Linked DNA regions of Homo sapiens: all the other regions are reported to be linked to region 1. Evidence: microRNA targets listed by miRTarBase, many of them from high-throughput screens and not tested one by one. Region 1 holds a microRNA gene; each other region holds the end of a gene's coding sequence.
Evidence for each region. The annotated mature microRNA hsa-miR-8485 reads CACACACACACACACACGUAU and lies in region 1 at 2,344-2,364, shown strand. An mRNA with a match to its seed (bases 2 to 7 or 8) in the 3' UTR can be bound and repressed. Matches are read on the target gene's strand: a 7mer-m8 pairs with bases 2 to 8, a 7mer-A1 pairs with bases 2 to 7 and ends in A, and an 8mer does both.

Region 1 (5,074 bases):
AAAATAGCCACCACATTGCATGTTGCATGTTAAAATAAATTGTGTACTTTTATGAAAAATAATTATATTCCAACACTAAGATAATTTTGTGAGAAGAGTGACTTATTTTACATTATTGACAATCTCTTTGATGTTTGGCTTAAGAGAGCTAGATTCTCACAACTACTTCTGCAGGCAATCTTTTGTGATAGCATATATCCTTTGGCCTCTAGACAGCACCGTTGTATATTTGTGAGATGATGAAAAAGATTTTGGCCCTTGGCCCTCCCGAAAGTCTCAGGGACTACCAAATGTCCTTGGACAACATTTGAGGACTTCTGTCTTATACTGTCAACGAATATCTACTGAGCACCTACTAAGTGCCAGCACTGCTGTACGGGTGGGAAGTACAGGACAAACAAGACCATGACCCTGCCCGCACAATGTTTACTTTCTCATGAGAGAAGGAGGATTCTAAAGTGAAACAACTAAGATGATTTCAGATAATGATAGGTGTTATGAAGAAAATTAGACTGGTATTAGGATGAACTGTAGTGTAGATGGGGTTGTGTTGTTATTTAGAGCCAGATTAACGAAATTGGCTCAAGGCAGTGACTTTAAGTGAGAGTAGCAGGAAGTGCAGCCGTGTGAAGAGCTATGGAGAGCTGTCTACTTTGGGGGAACAGCTGGTACAAAGCACCAAGGTAAATTGAAGAGTTAAAGGAACAAAAGTGCCAACCTGGAGGCAGAGAAAAGAAAGAAAATGAAACAAAGATGTGGGCAGAACCTATTTTATTTGAGGCCTTGTAGACCATGGCAACCCAGGATTTGAATTATATTCTAAATATTATTTGAGGATTTGAAGAAAAGAATGATGTAATCTAATTCACATCTTCAAAACATCACCATAGTTGAGAAGTGAAGCATGGGCTACAGAAGAGCAAGGAAGGGAGAGAGGAGACCTTTCAGGGGAGTGTCGCGTTAGGTTCGGATGAAACCACAGAGGAAGTAACAGGCAGTCATTACGTTCAAGATGAAGGTACAACTGACAAAACCAATACATTAATTTTCCTTTCAGTCTGATTAAAATCCATTTCTCTATCTGACCATTTCTCTAACTTGTCAAGTTTCACTTTGAAAGATGCTCCAGTATTTCAAGGTCTTAACACTCTTTCCAACTTTTGTCACACACAAATTTAATGAGCATCCTCTCTCTTAGACATCATTGTAGCATATTAATCATATACTGTCCTAACTTACCTTATCAGCTTGTGACAATGAGTCTTTTCTAAAAAAACTTTTCCTGTATATTCAAAATGAAGACTAATGAAGTTTATTTATACAAGCTAAAAATATAACACTCAGAATTACGTGTGCAAAATATTCCCTGTAAAGTATATTTTATTTCTCTTTTTCACTTCCCATCTGCCCCTTCCAAATACATCTTTGTCTTCTGGTTGTTGAGAGGTTGCAGGGTATTCATATTGTCTTATTGCTGGTACAGTAGGACGTTTGTGTATGACCCAGCTTTGTTTGTTAAGGTGCTTGAAGTAAGTAATATGCTCTCAATGAGACAAAAGCAACAATTTGGAAACAAAAGTGGAAATTAACAATGCCACTGGTTTCTGTTTAAAGAATTTATGTATCAGGCTTTCATTGTGAATAAACTCAGTAAGCAGCTACTCAAATGATGTGATTACATGGTCTAGGAATATACTCTTGGTCTCCAAAATGACTTCTCTATGACTCCTGGTAGTATATGAAACTTAGTAATTAACACTTTCTACCATTTAAATCAAATAAATATGTTTATCTCTGTGAAAATTCAGGTATTCTTAAGAGAGCCTCACTGATCCTCACCCGAAAATTCATGCTTTGGTTTTAATGGGTGTGCTTGCTGGTTTCTCTACAGAGAGCTGCTTTGACAGTTGCAAGATAAAAGAAGAAATAGTTGCTCAGAACCACAAAGAAAATAAATAGACATTGGAAGAAGAGGCATAAACAGTTTTCTCCGCCTGCTTCACCCCATTGCCTTGGCTTTTCTTGTCTTTCTTCTACCTTATCACGACCTTCTTTAGCAAACTATGATTTAGCTTAGAGGAGAAGCATGTTTAAAGAGTTGTAAGACAGGTTTTCTTTTCTAACTCTCCATCAGAATATTACTTACTTCTGAGACTGTTTTTCTTATTTATAAGAAAGGAGATTTATAACACTGTCAGCTATCTGTGTGAAGAATTATGTACATTTCAAATTCTCATTTTTTCATATGTATAGAACATTTTATGGTCTTCAGTTCTGTGATATACGTGTGTGTGTGTGTGTATATAGCATATGTGTATACATACACACACACACACACACACACACACACACACACACACGTATATGTACTGTCTTTTAAAATTTCCATAGTCGACTGGGTGTGGTGGCTCTTGCCTGTAATCCTAGCACTTTCGGAGGCTGAGGCGGATGGATCACCTGAGGTCAGGAGTTCAAGACCAGCCTGCCCAACATGGTGAAACCCCATCTCTGCTAAAAATACAAAAATTAGCCAAGCATGGTGGTGGGCGCCTGTAATCCCAGCTGCTTGGGAGGCTGAGACAGAAGAATCGCTTGAAGCTGGAGGGCAGAGGTTGCAGTGAGCCAAGATTGTGCCACTGCACTCCAGCCTGAGTGAAAGAGCGAAGCTCCATCTCAAAAAAAAAAAAAAAAAAATCAGAGTCACTCTGGTTAGGCTTATTTCCCTAATCCTTTGGAATATTAGTAAAACTGAGGCTCAAAAAACTAATGCACAAAGTCATATGGATAAAAAGCGATATCTAACCATTTATCTTCAACTCTTCCTACTATAGCACGTCGACATTTATTACCGTGTTCTAGATAAAAGCCTTCTTAGAACTATTAACATATTTCACATATTTTAATCTCTCAAATTTTGTTTCTCGTTTTGTACAATAATTTGTGCTCCTAGAGGAAAGCAAAGACTTAGTCTAATCTCTTTGTCAAATGGAAATAGACTAATGTTACTTACTATGAATAAGAGACTATATCTCTGTCCCTAGCAAGATGTCTCTGGCTAAGGGATTACCCATAGTTAATAGAACCCAGGATCTATGAGGCAGGGCTACCTGGAGCATATGACATAAGGTACACCACTTTATGTTATATGATGCACCTTATCTGAACTTGATAGCTTATATCCTTGAAATTATTTAGCAAAGCTTGATGCTGGGCAAGATCTTTAATTCATGTGAGTCTGATTTGACAATCTAATCCTCACATTTGTCGGTAAATAATACAATTAAAATATTCTGAAGGAATCTCAAGTACAAATACCAAAGATAAGATGCCTTCCCCCCACCGCCACCCCCTTACCCAGGTTGAAATGTTACTGATAAAATATGTTGGTAAATAGTCTCCCTACTGCACTGGTGAAATCAAAGCCACCCTTAAGCAGTGAAGATGGCTAATTTAATTTCAGTAGTTATAAATCAAAATTAAGCCTAGGAAACTGGACCCATAAATGGCTGCAGAGAATCCAGCTGTGTTTATTCTAAAGGCACTCCCAGATCAATTTGCATGGAGGTGATTTGGCTATGAGATAAGGGAACTGTCTTTCAGCCCCATCAGTTAGAACAGTCACCAGGATCTAAAGTACCCAATCAAGAGAATACCCCGCAATTAATTTTTTATAAGCCAAGGAAAGACTATTGCTAAAATGTAGAATAAAGCCTTTATTTTGTAATGATTACTTTTGTTCCAGAGAGCATTTTCTGGATTAAATATGAATATTGGGGATAAAAGGATTAACCGATTTTACCTCAAATTCAGTAAGATAAAGAATGTAACCTCCACCTACTCATAATCAAATCAATTGATTTGTTCTTTGGTAGAATTGGTTTGATTTTCTTTTCCCTACCTTGAATTTAACCAAAGGATATGATGCTTCTTCGATTCTGACTTTGTAGAGATGAACAGAGATAAATCAGTTTTCTTGAGTGTTCAACCTTGAATGGACAATCCTCAGACTTAGAAATAATTATTTCAACTAACAAATATAGAAGGTTATGGAGACACAAAGAGGGACAGATTCCAAGGAGTTTTATTATTTACATCAAATGTTTTTTATAGTATACAGCTTAGAAGTTGACTGATTTATGGTTTAATTCCAACTATTATATATTCACCCATACATTAAGAGGGAAACCGATGCAAAAAGATAAAATAACATGCCCAAACAGACAGAATATGTAAATGTAAGAGACAGTGCTAGAACCTACCTTTTCCCCTCAAATTTCTGGAATCTTTTCTTTCTAGTCTAATCCATTAATTTACAAAGTTTAATTATATTCAAGTAACAATTCATACGTTTCTATTTGGTACCCATTATTTTAAAATGCCATTAAACATCACTTGCTAAATCATACACACGTTAGTCCCTAAACCTCAAAATAAAATGCTATGGGCTGGACGTGGTAGCTCACACTTATAATCCCAGTGCTTTGGCAGGCCAAGGCAAGAGAATCCCTTGAGGCCGGGAGTTTGAGACCATCCTGGACAGCATAGGAAGACCCTATTTCTACAAAAAATAAAAACAATTAGCCGACCATGGTAGTGGATACCTATAGTTCCAGATACTCAGGAGGCTGAGGTAAAAGGGGGACATGATGCCAGGAGTTTCAGGCTGCAATAAGCTACGGTTGCACCACTGCACTTCAGCCTGGACAACAGAGTGAGATTCTGCCTCTAAAATAAACTTCAAAATTAATTAATTAATTAAATGCTATGAAGTATACTTTAGGTTGCAGACATATCTGCAATTTTGAAAATATACCAACTTTCTGAAGTTGAGTTAGTAATATAGATATTAGGTCCTAGTTACCATCTCTTTATTTTCCCTTCATATTTTCCTTTGCAGTTAGTGGTTGCAAGCTGCATTTTAATGCAGAAATATCAGAGTTCATTGATTCAACGTATTTATTTCAGTAGTGCAGTTGTGCCATTTTTGCATTTGTGGTCTCACATTTTGTTCCTTGCCAGTTTATTTGACCTTTGCACGCAATTGTAGGCAGGAGGAAGTCCAAAAGTCCCTAGG
Region 2 (5,074 bases), not on the chromosome of region 1:
ACCATTTATAAAATGGTTGAAGGAGGCAGAGGAAGAATCTTCTGGTGGCGAAGAAGAAGATGAAGATGAGAACATTGAGGTAAACATTGGGGGAGGAGGGTATTGGATACAGTGCTGGCATGGGTGTTTGAGATTTAAAAAGGTTTGTGAGGAGTGATATAATGGCAGTTTGGGGTAATTTCAGGTTTAGAATTTAAGATGCAGTAAAATACAGCCTCTCAATAATTTGGAAAATAATAGAAAGGGTGATGGAAACTGTGTTCCTACTCCTACACATTATAGTCTATAAAAAAACTTTAAAAATGCTCTTAGACTGGAGCCTGTGTAAGAGAACTTGCAGTGTTTGCATAACAGAGCTGTTCCGTGAAGAAGAAATAGCTGCATCTAGGCAGTTTCCTCCTCTGTGACCACAATTTACATTGATTTGTTTTATAAACAGATTTATCAGCTTATGTTGAATAAAATCATTCCTCTTAACAGGTGGTGTATTCGAAGGCTGCCAGTGTACCGAAAGTTGAGACTGTAAAGTCAGACAACAAGGATGACGACATCGATATTGATGCCATTTAAAGGGATGGATGCAACCTAGCTTAACAGTATAATGCTGCAAATTTTCCTCCATTATCAGCCAGAAGTGCAACATGTATGTGCAAAAGCTAAAATGGCTTAACATCATGCTACACTTTACACTAAAAATCTATTACTGTGAGTGGTCTGTTATTAAGCCCAATGAGACATCTAGGGAGTCCATACACATCAGTGAGCAGATGTAGTTTGCTTATTTATAGCATGTTTCTTTTTGAAAAACTAGTGGTGGACACATTTGGATCACATTTATACAGTTATAAAAATAAAGGTTTGATTTTGGTCGTTCTTCAGATGTTTGGCTCTGAATGACTTAAGCTGAAGTAACTGGCTCCTTACTTTAAATGTTCTGCCATCATTTCACCTGATGAGCATTCTTGGAGCCTGCCAGATATTGTTAGGTCCTGGGGCTGCAAAGAGGTCCTCAACAGGATGTAAAGCAAACTTAATTGTAATTAATTTATTCAGCCCATTAAGAAAGTACTAAAGTTTTATCTCTGTAGTTCCTCAAATTGGCATCTGGTAATGTACATTGTGAGGTAGACTGATAATGAAATGACAGTGTAACATCTTAACCAAGAAGTAAATATGACCTCAGTGTCCTATAAATAATGTAAGAGCAGGATTTGAAACTTGGAGAGCTGTTTTCTCATTTCATGTACACTTGCCCCAAATTGTCTTTGAAGTCGTGTGCATTGCACGTTGGATGAGCCAGGGAAATTATTACATTAACAAGCATTTTGTGTGTACGTAGTAGTTACTTTGTACTGAGAGAACTTGCTTTGGGGTGCAATTAATAAACTGATTTTATTTGGGAGAAACAAGGAAGGGTGCACTTAACTAGCAACCTAAGCATGATTTTTCAGCTTTTGCCCTTAGGGTTTAAATTACAATTCCAAAATGTTAGACATACTGTATTTTTTCGTTCAGTGTGGCTTTAATTTTCCCCTCTTGCAGTTTGTTCTGTAATGCCTTTTACATTTGGACACATAGTTTATGCTTTTTAGATTTTGGTTGCTTTCTTGCCAAAATAAGTGTTAACTGTGTTTCAAACTTGATTTTCTTTCCTTTTTCTTTTTTTTTTCTTCCAGAATGTCTTATTTAAAAAGAAAGCTAAAAGCATACTTCTAAGTCAGAGCCTCTATTTTGGTGTAAGACTTGGGATATTTTTTACTTCACATTGAATATAGCCAGGCACCCAAGAAGTCTGATGGCCACCTGAGTGCAGGTGACAAGGACCTGACAGAGCCCATGCAGGGCTTTAGATTTGGACACACAAGAGTTGATAACTTCCTCATGAACTCCTTGCCTGATCTAAACTCATATTATGGGTTCTGACTGTTTGAGTAATCATCTTCAAGGTTAAACCTCTTGGCAGTTACCCTTTTCACAAAGTGCACAGTGGGAATCGAGAATCGATAGGGTTAATTTTGGAGCAGTGGCTTATACCATTCACCTCTGTTTTTTTGTGATTATTTCACAGATAATGAGACCTTAATAACAAATAGGCGTAAAAAAATTTTCACATTGAAATGATAGAAACATTTGATGTAATAAAACTTGGTTGGCTTGATATTTTAAGGAATTGAAACCTAGCAATCTTATTGGAGAGACAAGAATTGGTCTCCAGCTGCCTTTGATCAAGATTCGGGTGCAAGTGGAGCAGGAGCCATATACCTGGAGGGAATGTGCTTTGTCACACCAAAGAGGATTTTTTTTTCTTCAAACTTGTATGTTGCCTAGGTTTCAAATTCTTTGCCGCAAGGCTGATCTGCTTTCATTAACTGGAATTCTGTAGGAGATACTGGTGACCTAAGCTAAGTTGCACTCAGCATACTCAGTGTCAAGCTAATGAGGTTCTATTATAAAGGTTCTACTTTTAATCTGAGGGAAAACATGTTCAGGGCTTCTAGAACACTAAAAAATTTGGCTTAAACCAGTGTTCAGTCTGGTGCCAAACTTCGAATGGAATACAAATTCACATAATCTGAACTTTGTTCACAGGTTATCCTAATAGAGTAATTCTTCACTTTGCTCTATTGAACTGTCTTAAGGATTTGTTTAAACAGCTAAGTTACTTGATTAAAATAATGATAAAATTGTATTTTGTCTTTGCTTTAATATTAAAGTTAACAAGTTTTCATTTTATAATGAGATCAAAGCATTGGAATCTGCCCTGTTTTGTAGCCGTTGCTTTGGATTTGTGTTGGATGTATCCTGCAGTTACACTTGCCAGCCCCACTCACAAAAGTTGTTCATTTCATTGGGTCACTGGCTTTATTTGCTAGTCTTGTCTGTGAACTGAGCATCTGCCTCAGTTTTATTACTTGAAATCTTGGCAGGTGCTTAATAGGGAACATACATACAGCTATGTAACTGTGAATAATTGTATATATCTCTAGTTAAGAATGAGGGAATGGGGAGGTTTGCTTTCTAAACAAGTGCATTCTGAAATTGACTTAAAAATTTTTAGTGTGGGTCCTAAAGTTTAGAGATGGGCAAGGAGGTCTCTAATCCACCGCTTCCCGCTTGAGAAGGGAGGGGTATCAAAATTGAGCCCCAAGCTGTTTGTTCCAGTGTACCAAGCACTGACTTTATGCCTTTGGCCTGGAGATGGCAGAAGTGAAAGCTGGCCATCTGCAAAAAGCAGATAAGTGAGTTTGAACCTTTTGCATTTTGTTAGCTCAGTCAGTCCTCATCGTGGTCCTGAGGCATAGGTACTGTTGTACCAAGGTCACTTATCTAACAAAATAACCCTTCATGTATTTTAAATTTATTTGACAAGTCTGCAGACAATCCTTATCTAACCAGCTATTTTCTTAATTGCTACAGCTTGACCTACCAGTATTCCGGAGTAACCAGCAAATGCAAAGTTGACCTTGTTCCTGCATCATCTTTTTGATGGTTCAAATTTCAGCCTCCCTGACTACTACAAAGCCAGAGCAGTCTTAGTACCAGAAACAGTGTTGCACTTTCGTTGCATGTGCTGTGTGACCCCAAGGGGACAGGGAGTCACTTTGGTCATCTCTGTCCCCAGTACAGATCTTGATTCATAGTGACATTCCATAAGTGGGGTGACAGCAAATGACTTGCAGGTAGTCTCATTGTAGGTTTGTGCACCAGAGTGACCCTGTGAGCCTTTGTTAATAGGTTGGGAGCTCAGGGTGTTTATGTCCACCTGTCTGGTCTAGCCAAACAGTTTTTTTCTGGGAATCAAATTTCTGTGGTTTTTATGGCCAGAAATTTTAAGGACTTGTGTGTGCTGGGATATGAGAATAGAAGCTACAGAGTTCTTTTCTTGGGACCTAGACTGGGAGGTGCAATGTCAGGACCTCCAGGTGAATGGTAGGATCTGAGTTGACCCTGCAGTTCGGTTATGCAGTCAATTATTTCTTTTTAAGAGGAGGAGGATTCACTTGGGTGTTGGGATCAAATTTGGATTCTGTCCCAGGCCTTACTGTAAAACTAGGGGATTGCCTTTCCATATCTGCTGGGGGTGGAGACCCTTATGTGCAGCACTCAATCCCACTGGAAGCCTAATGCTGCAGTCAGAAGCAATGCCTGGCTGGGGCAGTAGGGGAAATTCCACCCAATTTTGCTATGAGCCTAAAACCTCTTTAAAAACGGTCAGTTAACTAAAAAATAAAAATCAAGTCTTTAGGAGAGTAGAAAACACAATTAACTAAAAAGCAGGGACATCTGAAAGAGACGTATTAAGTTAACATTTTTAAAAATCCAAATGAAAGTAAATGGAATAAATGTATCAGGTAAAGGACAAGTTGTAAGCTTGGATTTTTAGGTCTAGCAATACACTGTTTACAAGAGCATCACCTAAAATGTGACAAAAGATGTTGAAAGGATGAAAAAAGGTATAGTAGACATACACTAACCAAAAATGTAGCTCTTTGAATCTCAGAAAAAAGTAGATTTTAATAAAGTGTGAAAGTTGTCAATCAAAGCGGAGTCACTTGTGTTCAAGAAACAAAAAAACAACCCGAACAAATAGAGTAGGGTTTGCAGTCTTGCGATGGTGAAGGGTCTCATGCTGGTATGCCCAATAACGAAATTATCACAAAAGATTGCAAAAACCACAGCCTTGCACAAAAAGCATCACAGCCTTATGCAAAAAATACTTCAAGGACATCTACCCAGCAACAGCCTGTCCAGCTGTGGACTTGCATCGCCCTTGTTATGGATCTTTGTAGCCACAGGTGGTAATCTCAAAACAGTTATGTAATCTTCATTTATCCTTTAAAAACCATTCTCGGCCACGCGTGGTGGCTCACGCCTGTAATAACAGCACTTTGGGAGGCCGAGGAGGGTGGATCACCTGAGGTTGGGAGTTTGAGACCAGCCTGACCAATGTGGCGAAACCTCATCTCTACTAAAAATACAAAAACTTAGCCAGGTGGGGTGGTGCATGCCTGTAATCCCAGCTACTCGGCTGAGGCAGGAGAATCGCTTGAACCTGGGAGGTGGATGTTGCAGT
Region 3 (5,074 bases), not on the chromosome of region 1:
CCTGTCTAAGGTGGGGCAGCAGTTGAGGGTAGATCTAGCATGAGACCTATTTCTGGGGTTTGACTCCATGGCAGTAGGGAGCCTCGGCTGGTTCTGGAGAAAGGGGGAGCAAAAGGTTAGGAATGGCTCCTGGTGTTCCCTGCGGGACTGACCCCCAGTCTCTGCATTGCAGGCAGGACAAGCTGAAAATCCACATGCGGAAGCACACAGGGGAGCGGCCCTACCTGTGCATCCACTGCAACGCCAAGTTCGTGCACAACTACGACCTCAAGAACCACATGCGCATCCACACGGGCGTGCGGCCCTACCAGTGCGAGTTCTGCTACAAGAGCTTCACGCGCTCTGACCACCTGCACCGCCACATCAAGCGCCAGAGCTGCCGCATGGCACGGCCCCGACGCGGCCGCAAGCCTGCTGCGTGGAGGGCCGCCAGCCTGCTCTTCGGGCCCGGCGGCCCGGCCCCCGACAAGGCGGCCTTCGTGATGCCCCCTGCGCTGGGCGAGGTGGGCGGCCACCTGGGCGGCGCAGCTGTGTGCCTCCCGGGCCCCAGCCCCGCCAAGCACTTCCTGGCAGCGCCCAAGGGCGCCCTGAGCCTGCAAGAGCTGGAGCGGCAGTTCGAGGAGACACAGATGAAGCTGTTCGGGCGCGCGCAGCTGGAGGCTGAGAGGAACGCGGGGGGCCTCCTGGCCTTCGCGCTGGCCGAGAACGTGGCGGCGGCGCGGCCCTACTTCCCGCTGCCCGACCCTTGGGCCGCCGGCCTGGCCGGCCTCCCTGGGCTCGCCGGCCTCAACCACGTGGCCTCCATGTCCGAAGCCAACAACTAGGCTGGTCCCTGTCGGCTCCAGCCCACCAGCCCTCCAGTCCTTCTCCCTCCAGGCCCACTCTACCCTACCCCATGGATCTGAACTTTTCATTTTAAAAACACAAAGGGAAAATGGGAAAATAATAATAATACTATCAGTGATGGCATTTTCCCGGGCTCCTAAAGCAGCTGCCTCCTTTTGCTGGTCTGAGACGGGCATCTTTTCCCAAAAGGCCAGGAGCCCGGGCCTCCCTCCCTGTCTCTCTGGCTCTCATATAGAAACTTGCACCGGCCCATGCCACAAAGAACTGGGTGCCCAGGGGCACTTAGGAGCTGGGTGAGTCATGAGGGGTCAGGGGGTGGTTGGCCTGGTGCCCAGCCAGCCACAGCAGGAGGAGGTAGGGGCTGGGCATGCACCTTGGTTAAGCCCCACCCCCTATGGCAAAGTCTCTGCCAACACTCCTCTGAGGGCTCATTTTCCAGTCTCCAGTGGCCCCGGGGTCTTTTTGAGAACTACCCACCTGCCACATAGAAAGAAATGCTCTGTTGGCAGGGAGGCCTCCTGGAACCAGTCAGGAACCAGGCTCTGGAAGGCCCGGGCCATTTCTTCCCTGACCTGTCCTGTGACCTTGACAGGTCAGCCCTCTGTAGCTCAGTGTCACCTGGCTATGGAAGGGGCTGGTAACTGAGGTTTCCGCCCTCCACCTCTAAACACATACACACCTATCCCCCCAGAGAATCACAGAGATGGTAGAAGCTTTGTACTCCCCAAGTCCATGGGGAAACAGTTTATCTTTCTGGACTTAGTTTTATCACATCCAGCTCTATATTAGCATATTAGCATAGGTGAGAAATATGGCCAGACTAGACAGAGATCAGGTCATCAGGGGAGCTTCCGAGCTTCAGCAAAGCCCACAGGTAGCTCTGCGAACTCAGAATGCTACCCTACCTTCCCTGCAGGCCGCTGTTCATGTCTGGACTCCTGGGGGCGCTATTTAATGTTTACCCCCATCTCCAGTGCCCCCTCCAAGGCTGTGCAGTGTCTTGGGGCTCTCAGGGCCAACATCGAAGAGATGGGGGCCACCTCTTAACACCTGGCAACAGTCTCCCCTCATCCTGATTCCTGACAACAGACAAAACACCGGTTTCTAGGGTTTATCTGTTTGTTTTTTGAGTTGAGGGTTCCTCAGGGCCTTGGCATTGCTAGTGATGGTCCCCTTTGCTGTGTGAGAACCCCCTCAACCCCTTCCTCCTCCCTCTGGGGATGAAGTGGGAGTATTTGGCTCCCCATTTTTGACAAAAGGGCTCAGTGCAGGGAGGTGGAGGCCTCTGAGGTTTGAAGGGCTCTGTGAGTTAGAGTTGTCACATGTTCTCCTGGTTCTTGAATTTGCAGCAGGTCCTGAAAAGGAAGGCTCTGCTGGCCCCGTGCCTTCCTGACCTTCTCTCTCCTTCCCTCCCCTCTCTTTTCTTGCCAAGTTTGCTTTGGTTTCTGAGCAGCCCAGAGAGGAGGAGGGTTCGTCCCCAGGGAGAGCCCAGGGCTGGAGTCCCCAATCCCTGTGCTATGGGCACAAAGAGACTTCAGCTCTTCCTGTTGCCTTGGCTTTTTCCTGAGCAAAAACACAACAAACAAAAAGGCCAGAGAAGAGCACAGACTCTGTCCCTCTCACAACTCTCCAGAAGAGACCCCCTGATTCTTCACACCACCGGATGCCACTCCAGCCAGCAGGATTGCTACACACACCCTCTGTTCTCAGAAGTCATCTGCCTGGGCAGCCGCCTCTCAGATTCCTGTCTTCGTTTCAGACACTTTTCTCTGAAGCATGCCCATGTCCACCAGCCAACGTGCCCCCGTGTTCCCCCCCATCAGCCAAGTGATTGGGGCTGAACCAGACTTTAAAAGAGAGGAAAAAAAAAAAAAAAGGAAACATGAATAAATTGGAATCCAGTGGTGTTGGGGCTTTTGTTTTTATTTTGTAAAGGTGATGACTTCTTATAAACTCAATTTTTCAGATGACTGGTTAGTTCTTTCTGTTTTTTCTTGGCTGCAGTTTGGAATTGTACATTGTAAAATATCCAAAGATGTTGAGTACTGTATGATCAAGAACTTGAAGCAAATGGGTTGTGGGGGGAGGGGTGGTTGTGTTTTTGTTTTGCTTCAATTTTTTTTTTTTTTTGATGTTTCAATTTCCCTGTCTGTCTGTGGGAGAACTTTGGAATTTTTTCTATTTATAACTCTTTTTTTATGTGATTGCTCTACGTAAAATGACACTCAACAAAGTTTGCCTTAGTGATTCAAGGGACAATCTTCCATAACTTCGGTCGCACGCCACATCCCGCCGAGAAAAACTCTCAGCTAATTTTCTGGCCTATTTATTAAACAGTATTAATTGACTTGATTAAATTATATTGAGAGTTGCACTTCTGTGAGATGTGACTTCTGAAAGTTCACAGGACAGCAACAAGCCAGTCTTAAGGTTTTTAATTGTTGGGTGTCATAAACTTAAAATAATGTCAAAGACACCTTAACAAAGAAAAAAAAAAAAACCTTTGACCCTTATTTTATACTTTAAAGGACAGTGTTTTGAGTAAAAGTGAGCTATGCTTGCTTAATGACCTGGTGAGATTGATTCCCCCTTCCAATTGCCGTTTCAGTTATCTGGGGGTGTTGCATGGTAGGGAGGGCAGAACTCAATTCTCAGTAGTCTCTTACATTCCAGCTTTGTAAGGCATGGTTGGATCTTAAGCTTTGCAGCACCTGTGGGCCTGAGTGCGAGGTGTGCGTGTGTGTGCGTGTGTTCACAAACGTGTGCAGCTACACCCCAGGATGTGTGAGCAAGGGAAGTCCTGCCAGTTCCCCAGCCTGGCATCCGGAATGGGCTCCGGCTGGCCCTGCTGCTATCTGGGTCTCCTTCCTCTCACTTCCCGGTGCTGGCATCGGCCTCCTCCTTTCTTCACCTGAGCCTCTTTCCCAAAGAACATTAGATCCTAAAAGAACCTAAGGTAAAGGAATATACTTCTGTCATTGAATGGAGTCAGCTCTACTTACAACCCACAGCCCAGACTCTTGGTAACACTGTTCTTCGAATTGCATTTCTGGAAAACCAAGGGTCAACCCAGAGCCTCTTTTCTATTTTTGATTCCTTTCTTGCTGTAGTAGGCAACGTCTATGCAGCGTTTCTTGGTACAGAGAAAAGAACAGATCCGGGTTTCCAATTTAGACTCCTCCAAGCTGTGTGTCTTCAGTCTAATCACCCCTCCACTCTGGTCTTCCCTTCCCTCACCTCTAGTAATAAAGGAAATGGAGTAATCAGAGCTTCTCGAAGTTCTCCATCTAAACACCCCTCAGCAGAGGGGGCCAGCTGATTGGCAAATTGGGGGCAGAACACTAAAGAAATAGCCCAAAGTAACCTATCTGTAGTGTAAAACTCTGAAGTCTCCTGTTTTGGCTTTGAAATTCATGCTTCTGCATTCTATTACATAACATTTGTCTTAATATAAAAACATCGTTTTGATCGACTTGCCAGTTAAGTGACTTGCCTTTTCCCCAGAATCTTCTAGTGAAGTCGAACTGTTCCTTGGCCACCCTACAGCTTTGGGAGGCCCCAGCCCATGGCTGAGGGCTCAGGGGTAAGCATAGCCCAGTGCAAGAAATGCAAGGCCAGCTGCTCGTCAAGATTCTGCTCAGCTCGGCCATTCTAGGATCATGTGGTCCTCATTCTGGGGGTCAGTGTCCACTGAGTGACATAGGTGAAGATGGAGAAGGGGAAGGGAACTGGGCCCAGTGGGCCTTGACCCCTGGGTGCTCCTGATCTCCTGTGAGTAAAATCTCCTTCTAGCCCTGGCCAGGTGGGAATTCCATGGAGCCCGGCCATGTGTGACCTGCACCCTGGGACCCCAAGGTGCTAAGGGAGGTGGGGTCCTGACAGCAAAGGAGCCTCCAGTGGAGGGAAGAGGGAGTGAAGGAAGGAGGATGAGGCCTCCGAAGACAGGCCAAAGAAACCTGTGCAGCTTACCTGGAGAAGAAGTCTTAAGGAATACATGAACAGGCCTTGGGACTTCAACAGGTGTGTTGGGGAGGGGAAACTTTCACCAAAAATTTGGCCAACCCAAGCCAATAGGAGAGAGATTGCAGGAGGCAACTGGGTGCCCAAAAAAAGGAAGAGAACTTCCTAACATCTGGAGTTGCCCTAAAGAGGAACGAGGTCCCTCGTGAAGGAGTGAGCTCTCAGTCAGCACAAGAGTTCAACACTGCCTCTCAAGAATGTTGGAGAC
Region 4 (5,074 bases), not on the chromosome of region 1:
GAGTGCAGTTGCCACCTCTGCCTCCTAGGTTCAAGCGATTCTCATGCCTCAGCCTCCTGAGTAGCTGGGATTATAGACGTTTGCCACCACACCTGGCTAATTTTTGTATTTTCAGTAGAGACAGGGTTTCGCCATGTTGGCCAGACTGGTCTCCAACTCCTGGCCTCTAGTGATCTGCCCGCCTTGGCTTCCCAAAGTGCTGGGATTACAGGCATGAGCCACCACGCCCAGCCCAGTTCTGTTCTTGACCCCTTCCTTAGCCATAATCTAACCCATATCTAACCCTGACCCTACAGCTAACTGGGGCCCCAAACTCAATGCTAACCAAATCACCCCTTCCCAGCACAGCATGGGTAATGCTCCTCACCTTCCTCTGCCCCTCAGTCTTCCTCCTTACCGTAGGCTGTACTTCCCATGCCCTAGCCTCCAATTCTCCATCCCCCGCCCAAGCAGGGTCCCAGTCCTATGAGGATATGAGAGGAATCCTGTATGCAGCCCCCCAGCTCCGCTCCATTCGGGGCCAGCCTGGACCCAATCATGAGGAAGGTGGGTGCTTCTGCCGCTGTCCCCTGCTGTCCCCTGGGCTGACTTTGCCTTCCAGCCTACTTCCAGTGCCACCCATGTTCTCCTCCTCCCTGGTCCTATCCAGATGCAGACTCTTATGAGAACATGGATAATCCCGATGGGCCAGACCCAGCCTGGGGAGGAGGGGGCCGCATGGGCACCTGGAGCACCAGGTGATCCTCAGGTGGCCAGGTGAGCTGGGACTGCCCCTAGGGAAAGCGGGGAGGGAGGGAGATAGGCACGGATGGCAGTGGCTGCTGGCTTTCAGGGAGGGAGAGGGAACAGGGTTCCTAGGGCCTGGTGGGCAGGGGGAGGACTGCTGGACCCCTCCCCATCACCGTTTCTTCTGCATAGCCTGGATCTCCTCAAGTCCCCAAGATTCACACCTGACTCTGAAATCTGAAGACCTCGAGCAGATGATGCCAACCTCTGGAGCAATGTTGCTTAGGATGTGTGCATGTGTGTAAGTGTGTGTGTGTGTGTGTGTGTGTATACATGCCAGTGACACTTCCAGTCCCCTTTGTATTCCTTAAATAAACTCAATGAGCTCTTCCAATCCTATGAAGTAGTGCCATTGTGTGGGAAGGAAGGGAAGGAAAGGAAAGGAAGGAAAGGGAAGGGAAGGAAAGGAAGGGAAGGAAAGGCGTCTTGAATCCCATGGAAGAGGGAGGGCTGCCTTCTGCATACAAAGGGCCTTTTCCCGGTGCGGTGGCCCACACTTGTAATCTCAGCACTTTAGGAGGCCAAGCAGGTGGATCATTTGAGGTCAGGAGTTCGAGACCAGCCTGGTCAACCTGGTGAAACCCCGTCTCTACTAAAAATACAAAAATTAGCTGGGTGTGGTGGCGAGCCTGTAGTCCCAGCTACTTGGGAGGCTGAGGTTGGAGAATCACTTGAACCTGGGAGGCAGAGGTTGCAGTGAGTGGAGATGGTGCCATTACACTTCAGCCTGGGCGACAGAGCGAGACTTCGTCTCAACAAAAAATAAAAATAAAAATAAAACAAAGGGCCTTTCCCCTTCCATGGCCTAGCCTTCACCTACTGCCCTCTTTTGCCCGCTGCCCACAGATCCGTCACGATCAGCCCCCTCCCACCATCCAGCTACCCAATTATCATTAATTCAGCAGTTACATGCTGGGTGCCCAGTGGAGAAACAGCCCAGGAATTAGCAGTCTAGTTAGAAGATGCTATTCATTGTCACTGAGTACTTATTTATTGAGCATCTACTATACTCTTCTTTTTTTTTTTGTTTTTGAGACAGGCTCTCGCTTTGTTGCCCAGGCTGGAGTGCAGTGGTGCAATCATGGCTCACTGCAGCCTCGACCTCCCAGGCTCAAGAATTTCTCCCACCTCAACCTCCCAAGTAGCTGGGATTACAGGTGCCCGCCACCATGCCCAGCTAATTTTTTGCATTTTTAGTAGAGACGGGGTTTCACTATGTTGGCCAGGCTGGTCTCGAACGCCTGACCTCATGATCCACCCGCCTCGGCCTCCCAAAGTGCTGGGATTACAGGTGTGAGCCACCGCACCCGGCCACAGCTCATTTTTTATTTTTTGTAGAGATGAGGTCTTGAATGCCTCATGCTGCCCAGGCTGGTCTTGAATGCCTGGGCTCCAGTGATCCTACCAACCTTGGCCTCCCAAAGTGCTGAGATTACAGGCGCCCACTATCACACCCGGATAATTTTGTATTTTTAGTAGAGACAGGGTTTCCCCATGCTGGCCAGGCTGGTCTCAAACTCCTGACCTCAGGTGATCCACCTGCCTCAGCCTCCCAAAGTTCTGGGATTACAGGCGTGAGCCACAGTGCCCGACCTTACTATGTTCTAAGCACTAATATCAATGAGCAAATTTTATCGTTACAATAACTTCACAAAGATAGTAAGCACTTATTATGTGGCAGGATTGTATTCAAATATTTTATGTATATTTTATGGACATGTTATGTATGTTTGTGTATATTCATTCATTTTATCTTTACGACCCTATGAGGTAGGTATACTATTAATATTATTTTCACCATTTCTTTTCTTTCTTTCTTTTTTTTTTTTTTTTTTTTTTTTTTGAGACAGGGTCTCACTCTGTCACCCAAGCTGGAGTGGGTGGTGCCATCTTGGCTCACTGCAACCTCTGCCTCCTGGGTTCAAGCTATTCTCCTGCCTCAGCCTCCCAAGTAGCTGGGATTACAGGCCTGTGCCACCACACCTGGCTAATTTTTGTATTTTTAGTAGAGATGGAGTTTCTCCATGTTGGCCAGGCTGGTCTCTATCTCCTGGCCCCCAGTTAACAGCTCCCTGCCTCGACCTCCCACCCTGTTTTTGTTGTAGAAATTTCTTCTTTATCTCTGAGCATGTAAAACTTACTTCATCTTTTTTTTTTTTTTTTTTTTTTTTTTTTTGAGACGGAGTCTCGCTCTGTCACCCAGGATGGAGTGCAGTGGCACTGTCTCGGCTCACTGCAACCTCTCTCTTCCCTGTTCAAGCGATTCTCCTGCCTCTGCCTCCTGAGTAGCTGGGATTATAGGCATGTGTCACCACACTCGACTAATTTCTGTATATTTAGTAGAGACGGGGTTTCACTATGTTGGCCAGGCCGATGTCGAACTCCTGACCTCAGGTGATCCACCCACTTCAGCCTCCCAAAGTGCTGGGATTGCAGGCGTGAGCCACTGCGCCTGGCCTTTTTTTTTTTTTTTTTTTTTTTGACAGAGTCTTGTTCTGTCACCCAGGCTGGAGTGCAGTGGCTTGATCATAGCTCACTGCAACTCCTGGCCTCAAGCAATCTGCCTGCCTTGCCCTCCCAAGGGTGCTGGGATTACAGGCACCCAGCCCCTAAAACTTCTTTCATCTGTATTAACATTACTACGATGTGCCAGGCATCGTACCGTTCTCCAGGTGGCGACTCATTTTATCTTTACCACTGTCCTATGAGGAAAGTACACTAAAAATTATTATTATTTTACAGCTAAGGAGATTGGGGCACAGATAAATTAAATACTTCAATTGCTAACTGACTTTAGGCAACTTAACCTGACCCTCCACTGCCTCAGCTATAAAATCCCATTAAGGCGGAGGCATGCTGTAGTTACTATTACTTTTACATGGCATGTAAAAGAAGTCAAAGAAACCTTCCATGGAGGCAGGGCACAGTGGCTTATGTCTGTAATCCCAGCCCTTTTGGAGGCCAAGGCAGGTGGGATCAACTGAGGTCAGGAGTTCGAGACCAGCCTGGCCAACATGGCGAAACCCGTTTCTACTAAAAATACAAAAATTAGCCGGGCATGGTGGCAGGCGCCTGTAATTACAGCTACTCGGGAGGCTGAGGCAGGAGAATTGCTTAAATCCGGGAGGCGGAGGTTGCAGTGAGCCGAGATGGCACCACTGCACTCCAGCCTGGGCAGCAGAGCGAGACTCTGTCTCAAAACAACAACAAAAACCTTCCATGGTGACCCCATGAGCCATGAGAATGGAAGTCCCCATGGAAGATTTCTTTGATTTCACGGAAGGTGTCTTTGACTTCTTTATGTTTCTCCTGCCTGTGACAGCCTCATGGGTTCCTGGGGCCCCACTGACAACCTCTGGGGCCGGCTTGCTTTGGCTCCTGCCACAGTCTTACAGGCTGCACAAGATTCTGACCATTTTATTTATGAGTTCCTCAGAACAGGTTTCTGCACCAGAGGTTTGGGCTAACTCCAAGCCTATACTTTGGTTAGCTTTGGGGTTCTGAGTGCCTGGATGGCTTTTTCCATTCATTCTCAGGCGGCTCGCTTCTACATTGTGAGCCAGGGCCTGGGGATGGATTTTTTTTTTTTTTTTTGAGATGACGTCTTGCTCTGTTGCCCAGGCTGGAGTGCAGAGGTGCGATCTCAGCTCACTGCAATCTCCGCCTCCTGGGTTCAAGCGATTCTCCTGCCTCAGCCTCCTGAGTAGCTTGGACTGTAGGCACGTGCCACTATACCGGCTAATTTTTGTATTTTTAGTAGAGACGGGGTTTCTCCATGTTGGTCAGGCTGGTCTCGAACTCTTGGCCTTAAGTGATCCACCCACCTCAGCCTCCCAAAGCCCAAAGTGCTGGGATTAAAGCCCAGGCTGGAGTGTAATGGTGTGATCTTGGCTCACTGCAACTTCTGCCTCTTGGCTTTAAGCGATTCTCCTGCCTCAGCCTCCTGAGTAGCTTGGATTACAGGTGCCTGCCACCATGCCCGGCTAATTTTTTATATTTTTAGTAGAGACGGTGGCGGGTCGGGGGGAGTTTCTCTATGTTGGCCAGGCTGGTCTTGAACTCCTGACCTCCTGATCCACCCGCCTCGGCCTCCCAAAGTGCTGGGATTACAGGCGTGAGCCACCTTGCCCGGCCCCCATGTGGGTGTTAAAATGCCAATCGTAGGGGATTCCTGCATTCCCACAGGCTGCTTGACTTCACTGTCCCCACTGCCCCCACCACTGTGGCTTTGATTTTCCTCCTTATTCTGGAACCAAGAAGATTCTGTCTTCCCTTTGAGCTTAGCTAC

Region 2: the mRNA of EIF5 is a reported target of hsa-miR-8485. Seed matches in the 3' UTR shown: 8mer at 1,327-1,334 and 7mer-m8 at 3,840-3,846.
Region 3: the mRNA of ZBTB7C is a reported target of hsa-miR-8485. The part of its 3' UTR that is shown has no 7-base or 8-base seed match.
Region 4: miRTarBase lists CD19 as a target of hsa-miR-8485. Seed matches in the 3' UTR shown: 8mer at 1,023-1,030, 7mer-m8 at 1,033-1,039, 7mer-m8 at 1,035-1,041, 7mer-m8 at 1,037-1,043, 7mer-m8 at 1,039-1,045, 7mer-m8 at 1,041-1,047 and 4 more.

Annotation. Positions count from the first base shown.
Region 1 is chr2:50,693,462-50,698,535 of GRCh38, reverse strand. It overlaps MIR8485 (microRNA 8485), which reads left to right and starts at 2,274; the gene lies at 2,274-2,364. The region is part of intron 5 of NRXN1 (neurexin 1); the gene reads left to right.
Region 2 is chr14:103,340,483-103,345,556 of GRCh38, forward strand. It overlaps EIF5 (eukaryotic translation initiation factor 5), which reads left to right. Exons shown (of 12, transcript NM_001969.5): 11 at 1-79; 12 at 481-4,543. The coding sequence ends at 570. Among named protein-coding and RNA genes, the nearest start is that of SNORA28, 5.2 kb to the left of the region's middle.
Region 3 is chr18:48,025,010-48,030,083 of GRCh38, reverse strand. It overlaps ZBTB7C (zinc finger and BTB domain containing 7C), which reads left to right. Exons shown (of 5, transcript NM_001318841.2): 5 at 173-3,412. The coding sequence ends at 824. Among named protein-coding and RNA genes, the nearest start is that of SMAD2, 97 kb to the right of the region's middle.
Region 4 is chr16:28,938,223-28,943,296 of GRCh38, forward strand. It overlaps CD19 (CD19 molecule), which reads left to right. Exons shown (of 15, transcript NM_001770.6): 13 at 454-546; 14 at 650-756; 15 at 919-1,120. The coding sequence ends at 741. Among named protein-coding and RNA genes, the nearest start is that of CD19, 8.8 kb to the left of the region's middle.